Linked DNA regions of Homo sapiens. The protein of the gene in region 1 purifies or fractionates together with the protein of each later gene. This does not show direct contact. Each region holds a gene or a part of one and is shown on either strand. Other genes may lie near its edges. The genes, in order: PCIF1 and MNAT1.

Region 1 (3,819 bases):
TGTCAGCCTGTCTGGGACTGTGGGGTGGTGTGGGTGGGCAGGACATCCTCATCACTCCTCTCTGTGCCCCAAGGGTCTACTGGGACCTGGACATCCAGACCAATGCTGTCATCAAGCACCGGGGGCCTTCAGAGGTGCTGCCCCCGCATCCCGAAGTGGAACTGCTCCGCTCTCAGCTCATCCTGAAGCTTCGGCAGCACTATCGGGAGCTGTGCCAGCAGCGAGAGGGTACCTGCCTCTGGGCTGCAGCCTCCTTTATTTCCACCCACCTTTAGCATGAGCCAGGTTTGGCCAGGCCAGTTTGGGGATGGCGGAGTGGGGCCCAGTGGTGAGCCATGATCACACCAGTGCACTCCAGCCTGAGTGACAGAGCAAGACCCTCTTTCAAAAAAACAAGAGTATCTATACCTTAGGATTCTATGATAACCATTAAGTAAAATGAATAAGTATTAAATGAACTGTAGTTTTTAATTTTATTTATTTATTTTTTTTGAGATGGAGTCTTGTTCTGTAGCCCCTGCTGGAGTGCAGTGGCACCATCTCCGCTCACTGCATCATCCTCCTCCTGGGTCCCGGTTCAGGCAATTCTCCTGCCTCAGCCTCCCGAGTAGCGGGATTACAGGTGTACACCACCATGCCCAGCTCATTTTTGTATTTTTAATAGAGATGGGGGTGTCACGATGTTGGCCAGGCTGGTCCTGAACTCCTGACCTTGTGATGCGCCCGCCTCAGCCTCCCACAGTGCTGGGATTACAGGCATGAGCCACCACACCTGGCTAATTTTTTTTTAAGAGACAGGATCTGGCTATGTTGCCCAGGCTGGTCTTGTACTCCTGGGCTCAAGCCTTCTGCTTGCCTTGGCCTCCCACAGTGCTGGGATTACAGATGTGAGCCACCATGCCTGGCCTAGTTTTTAATTTTTATGATTAGTAATAAACCTATTTAACCTTGCTCAAATATAGAATCCTCTGGCCTTTCACCTTTTTTTTTTTTTTTTTAATTTTTTTTTTTCTTGAGACGGCGTCTCGCTCTGTCGCCCAGGCTGGAGTGCAATGGCGTGATCTCGGCTCACTGCAACCTCCACCTCCCGGGTTCAAGCGATTCTTCTGCCTCAGCCTCCTGAGTAGCTGGGACTACAGGTGCCTGCCACCACGCCCAGCTAATTTTTATACTTTTAATAGAGATGGGGTTTCACCATGTTGGCCAGGATGGTCTCGATCTCTTGACCTTGTGATCCACCCGCCTTGGCCTCCCAAAGTGCTGGGATTACAGGCGTGAGCTACCGCACCCGGCCCACCCTTTTTTTTTTTTTTTTTACATTATGTAATACTTTTTTTTTTTTTTCTTTTTCTAAGATGGAGTTTTGTTCTTGTTGCCCTGGCTGGAGTGCAATGGCACGGTCTCGGCTCACTGCAACCTCTGCCTCCCAGGTTCAAGCGATTCTCCTGCCTCAGCCTCCTTAGTAGCTGGGAATATGGGCACATGCCACCACACCCAGCTAATTTTTGTATTTTTAGTAGAGATGGGTTTTTTCCATGTTGGCAAGGCTGGTCTCTAACTCCTGACCTCAGGTGATCCACCCATCTCGGCCTCCTGAAGTGCTGGGATTACAGGCGTGAGCCACTGCGCCCAGCCTTTTTATTCTTTTCTTTTGAAACAAGGTCTCGCTCTGTCACCCAGGTTGGGGTGCAGTGGCACGACCACAGCTCACAGCAGCTTCAGCCACCCGGGTTCAAGCGATCCTCCCGCCTCAGCCTCCCGAGGAGCTGGGACACCCAGCTAATTTCTTTTTTTTTTTTTTTTTTTTTTTTTTTGTAGAGACAGGCTGTTACTGTGTTGCCCAGGCCGGTCTTGAACTCATGGGCTCAAGCTGTCCTTCCACCTTAGCCTTCCAAAGTGCTGAGATTACAGATGTGAGCCACTACGCCTGGCTAGATACTTATCAACACTATAAAACTAGTGATTCTTAGAATATATTTTGGGAAATGCAGCCTAGAAGCTTCTGAAGTGGGACTGTGTCTTGCTTACTGCTGAATGCGATGCTTCCTATACGTGCCAAGCTCCAAGTGGGACTGCTTGATTAAATCCAGGCCTTCAGCAGCTCTCCTGTCCTGCAGGCATTGAGCCTCCACGGGAGTCTTTCAACCGCTGGATGCTGGAGCGCAAGGTGGTAGACAAAGGATCTGACCCCCTGTTGCCCAGCAACTGTGAACCAGTCGTGTCACCTTCCATGTTTCGTGAAATCATGAACGACATTCCTATCAGGTACAGCTCCACAGCTGGGGATGACCCTGGGCCATTTGGTTTCTGTGCCCAGTCATGTATAGAAGGCCTCTAACTCTGCCCACTCTGAAACGCAGGTTATCCCGAATCAAGTTCCGGGAGGAAGCCAAGCGCCTGCTCTTTAAATATGCGGAGGCCGCCAGGCGGCTCATCGAGTCCAGGTTTGCCTGTCTTCTGCCCCAGGCGAGATGGGTCTGTGATTAAAGTGGCAGGTCATAGGCCATCTTGCCCAGTCTCATGCAGGGCTGTCATTGCTCTCGGTGGCAGAAGTGGGGCCAGCTCCCAAAGGCAGAACAAGGGCTGTGATGGAAGCTAGGGGTTGATACCCAGCGAGCCCATGGAATTGGGATGAGGAGGGTGGAGCCAAGCCATTCCTTTCTTCTGCCCTCCCCTTGACTGGCAGGAGTGCATCCCCTGACAGTAGGAAGGTGGTCAAATGGAATGTGGAAGACACCTTTAGCTGGCTTCGGAAGGACCACTCAGCCTCCAAGGAGGACTACATGGTGAGTGGGTCCCCGGGTGAGAAGGCCAGTTTTAGGGCTCTGTGGCCACTTCCTCCAGGAAGCCTACTCTGCCTGTCCAGGCTGGGCAAGGCCTCCCCCAGCGGCCTATTCTTGTGCAGTATGGCAGACGTTCGACATTCGTCAGTCCCCAAACTCATGACTGTGGAGATGTTTCTCTGGGCTCCTGGCTTTCTCCCACAGAACATTTCCATTAACAATCTTAATGGAGTCTTATGCTTGGCCACACACCACAGATAGCTGCCTTTCAGCCTAATGAATGTTCAGCATCTCCCTTGTAGATTTTTGGAAACAGATTGACAGCCTGCTTTTTTTGGGTGTGTGTGTTCATATCATGGTTAAGAGCTACCATCAGATTCAATTCCCTACTCTTAATGTGTCCAAAACAGTTCTGTTTTCTGGCCAAAACCTATCACTTCTTAAACCTCTCCACCAGCACTAGCAATGGGCTTTCTTTTCAGGACCATATTTCACAAGAGACAAGGTTTCGCACTTCACGATAGTAACTGTGTACTTGACACGTAGAGAGTGACAAAGGTAGGTGTACTCACTAGCCAGAGTGACTCATTCTCACTCTTCAGTTTTACACGTGTGATTCAGCAAAATTACAAATCCCGACAGTCATCTTTGCAAGTAGCTAAAAGCTCAAATCTCAAGTCTGCAGCAACCAAGCACCCTGTTTTGTAATTGTGTCTTTCCCCAATAGACTGCAAACACCATAAGCTGGGACTGTGCTGGTTTGTCTGTTTCTCCGGTAATTATCATGGGATCTAGCAGTGTAACCCCAACAAAAGCTACTGGCATTTATTGTACACTTACTGTATGCCAGGCATTTGGCAAGCCCTTAAGGGAAATGATCACATTTAATATTCAAACTGCCCTGTTAGGTATCTCGTGTCCCCTTGACACTTGAGGAATAAGATTGAGAGAAGCCAGGGGATTTGTCCAAGTGACACAGCTAGTCAGCAGCAGAGCTGGTTTCAAAACAAGGACTGCTGGACTCCAACAGCCCTGC
Region 2 (3,819 bases), on another chromosome or scaffold:
CCCACTCTAATTAGATTATTACTTTATTTAGGGCTCTTATTTCTATTCTTTCTTTTTTTTTTTTTTTTTTTTTTGAGATGGAACCTCGCCCTGTTGCCCAGGCTGGAGTGTAATGGTGTGAACTTGGCTCACTGCAACCTTCATTTCCTGGGTTCAAGCGATTCTCCTGCCTCAGCCTCCCGAGTAGCTGGGATTACAGGCATGTGCCACCATGCCTGACTAATTTTTTGTATCTTTAGTAGAGACAGGGTTTCACCATGTTGGCCAAGCTGGTCTCGAACTCCTGACCTTGTGATCCACCCGCCGTGGCCTCCCAAAGTGCTGGGATTACAGGTGTGAGCCGCTGCGTAGGGCTCTTATTTCTTATCTGGGTTATTTGAATATACTTCTAACTAGTCCTCCTATTGTCAGTCTTGAACCCAATTGATCTTTATGTATACCTTACTGCCTCTAGTCATCTTTCTAAACTCATCCCTCAAATTCCCTTAATATGTTCCCAGTGGCCTTAGTATAGCAAAATTCCACTAGTATGGTATAACAGAATAGTTGTTTTATTTAATAGTAACGTGTCTACATGAAATAAAGTAAATTCTATTTTCTTCAATATGGAATTGCTACATTATTAAATAATAAGTGACTAGTGTGTTTTATGCTTCCAATAAAGAAAGTATTAGAGTGTGGTATATGATTGCTCTTGGCTCCTAAATTTATTCCACGCCATATATAAATTTTTGTTTTAGACTCGAGAACAGGAAGAACTGGAAGAAGCTTTAGAAGTGGAACGACAGGAAAATGAACAAAGAAGATTATTTATACAAAAAGAAGAACAACTGCAGCAGATTCTAAAAAGGAAGAATAAGCAGGCTTTTTTAGATGAGCTGGTATGTATTAATGCTAATTGTGATTGTAAAAAACATTCTTCAGGATTTACCTTTCCTAGTAGGCTGGATGATGGCATTTAAAGGGCTTTTCCACAGTGTTTGTAATCTGGTTCACCTTTAGTTTTGTTGGTTATGTATTGATATCAGTGTATTTATTGCTGAATAAGAGGTTGCCCTCCATCCACACTGAACAATATGTTTTTATGCTCACAATTCTGTGGGTTAGGAATTTAAGTGGTTCTTTTGGGCTTTTCTGCTTCCCTAATGTATTCTCAGGACACCTCTCCATGTGGTTTTGATAGCGACAGGAGGCAGCCAAATGCCTAGGCAGATAGGGACGGGTACCCAGAGAAACCCCATCTCCATGTTGAAGACAGTTTAAAACCTGAAAGCCAAGCTACAAGTTAAATCCTTGGACCAGATTGAGAACTTGTCCTCCTGTTTGGTGTGCTTTCCTCTGATTGATCCCCACTCTTCACCTATTTTATGTATATCTACCCTTTCCTAATTGGTTTTCTACACTGTCATGCCCATCTTTGAGTAGTGTCTTCACTTCAACCTTTTTTGCTTACTCATAAGCTAATTCAGCACATTCTCCTCATCCTGTGCCTATAAAGACCCCAGACTCAGTAAGTAGAGGAAGAGACAACCTGACTTCGGGGAAGACGACTTGCTCTTCCTGTCCCCTCTCCAGCTCCCCTCTCTGCTAAGAGCTGTTTTCATCGCTCAATAAAATTATCACCTTCGCCATCTTTTAACCATCCCTGTGACCTCATTCTTCTTGGATGCCAGACAAGAGCTTGGGACCCACCAAGTGTGGGTACCCAGAAAGGCTGTCACACTGGCACTTTGCCCTTCCTGGTGGAGAGCAGCTGCCCTAGGTGACAAGGCCAGAAGCCAACTGAGCTGCCAACACACTGTTGTCTGATGGCAGAACTAAAGGAGCACTGTAACACTTCCCCTGGGGCTTTGGGGTTGTGGGCCCCCTCACCTGGGCACTGCCATGTTCCCCTTGAGGCAACATGCCTGGTCTGGCTGTGGGCCCCACGTAGAGTTTGCTTCTGTGTCCGTGCCTGGGGCGGATGGCTGGGTCCTGCACTTGCTTGCTTGTGTCTGGTCTGACTGCGGGCCCCATGCAAAACTTGTTCCTGTATTGGTGCTTGGAGCAGCTGGCTAGATCTGCGCTGACTCACCCACGTGCTCCCTCCCACATAGAGTTGAGTGCAGTGGGTCTAGTAGAGGGGAGTCCTTACCGTGAATCTAGTGAAGGGGCTGACTACATCAGAAACTGCATCAATTTCTGTAACAGTGTGATTGTACTTCTCACATGTTGGCTCAGGGTTACAAGAGAGAATATCCCAAGAATAAGGAGGTAGAAGATGCTAACATTTTAGGGCTTGGGCTAGGAAACTGGCACAGCACTGATTCCACCATATTAGTAAAAGAGCCCACTCAGTTACAAAGGGAATGGATATAGATCTCACCTCCTAATGGGAGTGTGATGGCCATCTTTAGTCCACACAGTATGTACTGGGGAAAACTATGTTTTTCTAGAATTTGGCATAATATAAATTCATTTGGGATACTCAGTCTCTATCCCAATGTGAGTTTAGTGATAAGAATTATGAAAATGACTTTCATTTTCATATTGTAGTTTGTCTTACCCTTATGCCTATTTATTTATATCATGCCAACTACTATGAAGGATTTAAAGTGATTTCCTAGATAAGAGTATTGTTTGTGGACATGGCACTACTTACTTTGTGTAACTCTAAGAACGATGTTAAAATGAGGTTCTAGTATATTTTACTTCTATATTTTTAAAAAGATTTTTGTTTAATATCCATTTTATTTTCAGATGAGAGAGTGACATTATAACTGAGATGAGCCAGTATATTCTTGATAGATTGTTTATATGGCTTTAAGCTAACTGACTAAAATACATTGTTTCTGAAGCACTTTTCTCCTGATTAATACTATTTTTCTAATAATGAGCTCATTTTGGCTCCATGCTGAAGTTTATATTGACTGTTTACTTTGTGACAATATATTTTATATTTTTGCATAAAAAAATAGTGTATTTTTGCTTGAAAGAAATAGCGGGGTTTTTGCAAATTATTGTTTTCCAGCAATTAGCTTCCTAGGTAGTCAACCTTGTTAGATAATGACAGTAATAATAACTAAGGTTTATGAAGTGTTTCATGGATTTATTACTATATTATTTGATACTTATAACCCTGTATGATATTGATGACTTCACAAACCGGAAAATCTTCCTCTCCAGGAAAGTCTTTTTGCATTCTTCTCTTTCCCTTTATGTTCATATAATTTATTTCCCTGAGGCTTTTGTGTTTGTGTGTGTGTGTGTGTATGCAGTGTTAATACACTTAACTTTCTTGTCTAGTTGATAATGCTATTATCCTATGATTGGGGAAAATATGTATATATGTGTTCTTCTACTGTGCTTTTGCCAAAAAAGCATTTAAGTCAGTTAACCAGGAGTAAAAAAAGAGAAAGCAAGATTACTTAAATTATAAGGAGGTGAGAAACTAAAGGAAAAATAAGGGTAAGGGCATTCATGAGGCTTAGATAGAAAACACTGTCATAAAACTCTATTTTCTATGACTGGAATGTGAATTTGGCTCTAAAAATGAGGACACCAGCATATTAAATAGAATAATGACGCCTTCCCTAGCAACTTTCATTAGTTCTTTCTTGAAACTATTAAGTGGCAGGTATGGCTTTAACAGTGAAATGACATGTTGTATTTTATATTTTTGTAGCTGTTTGGTGAGAAATTAAAAACTTTAAAAATGAATTAGTAAATTGATGTTACTAATTATTAGTATATAGTTACTAATTATAATTGTTTTATTGAAAGATTCTTCCCCTTATCATTTTATACAAAGAGTTACAGGCTCTTTTTTGGATAATGCTT

What was found.
Region 2: the proteins of PCIF1 (region 1) and MNAT1 purify together in Homo sapiens (affinity purification with mass spectrometry; one large-scale study listed by BioGRID and IntAct). This does not show direct contact.

The regions. Positions count from the first base shown.
Region 1 is NC_000020.11:45,940,980-45,944,798, forward strand, and holds part of PCIF1 (mRNA (2'-O-methyladenosine-N(6)-)-methyltransferase), read left to right. Parts: intron 1-73; coding exon 74-228; intron 229-2,117; coding exon 2,118-2,265; intron 2,266-2,360; coding exon 2,361-2,444; intron 2,445-2,686; coding exon 2,687-2,786; intron 2,787-3,819. UniProt on the Homo sapiens protein: Cap-specific adenosine methyltransferase that catalyzes formation of N(6),2'-O-dimethyladenosine cap (m6A(m)) by methylating the adenosine at the second transcribed position of capped mRNAs.
Region 2 is NC_000014.9:60,811,247-60,815,065, forward strand, and holds part of MNAT1 (CDK-activating kinase assembly factor MAT1), read left to right. Parts: intron 1-740; coding exon 741-881; intron 882-3,819.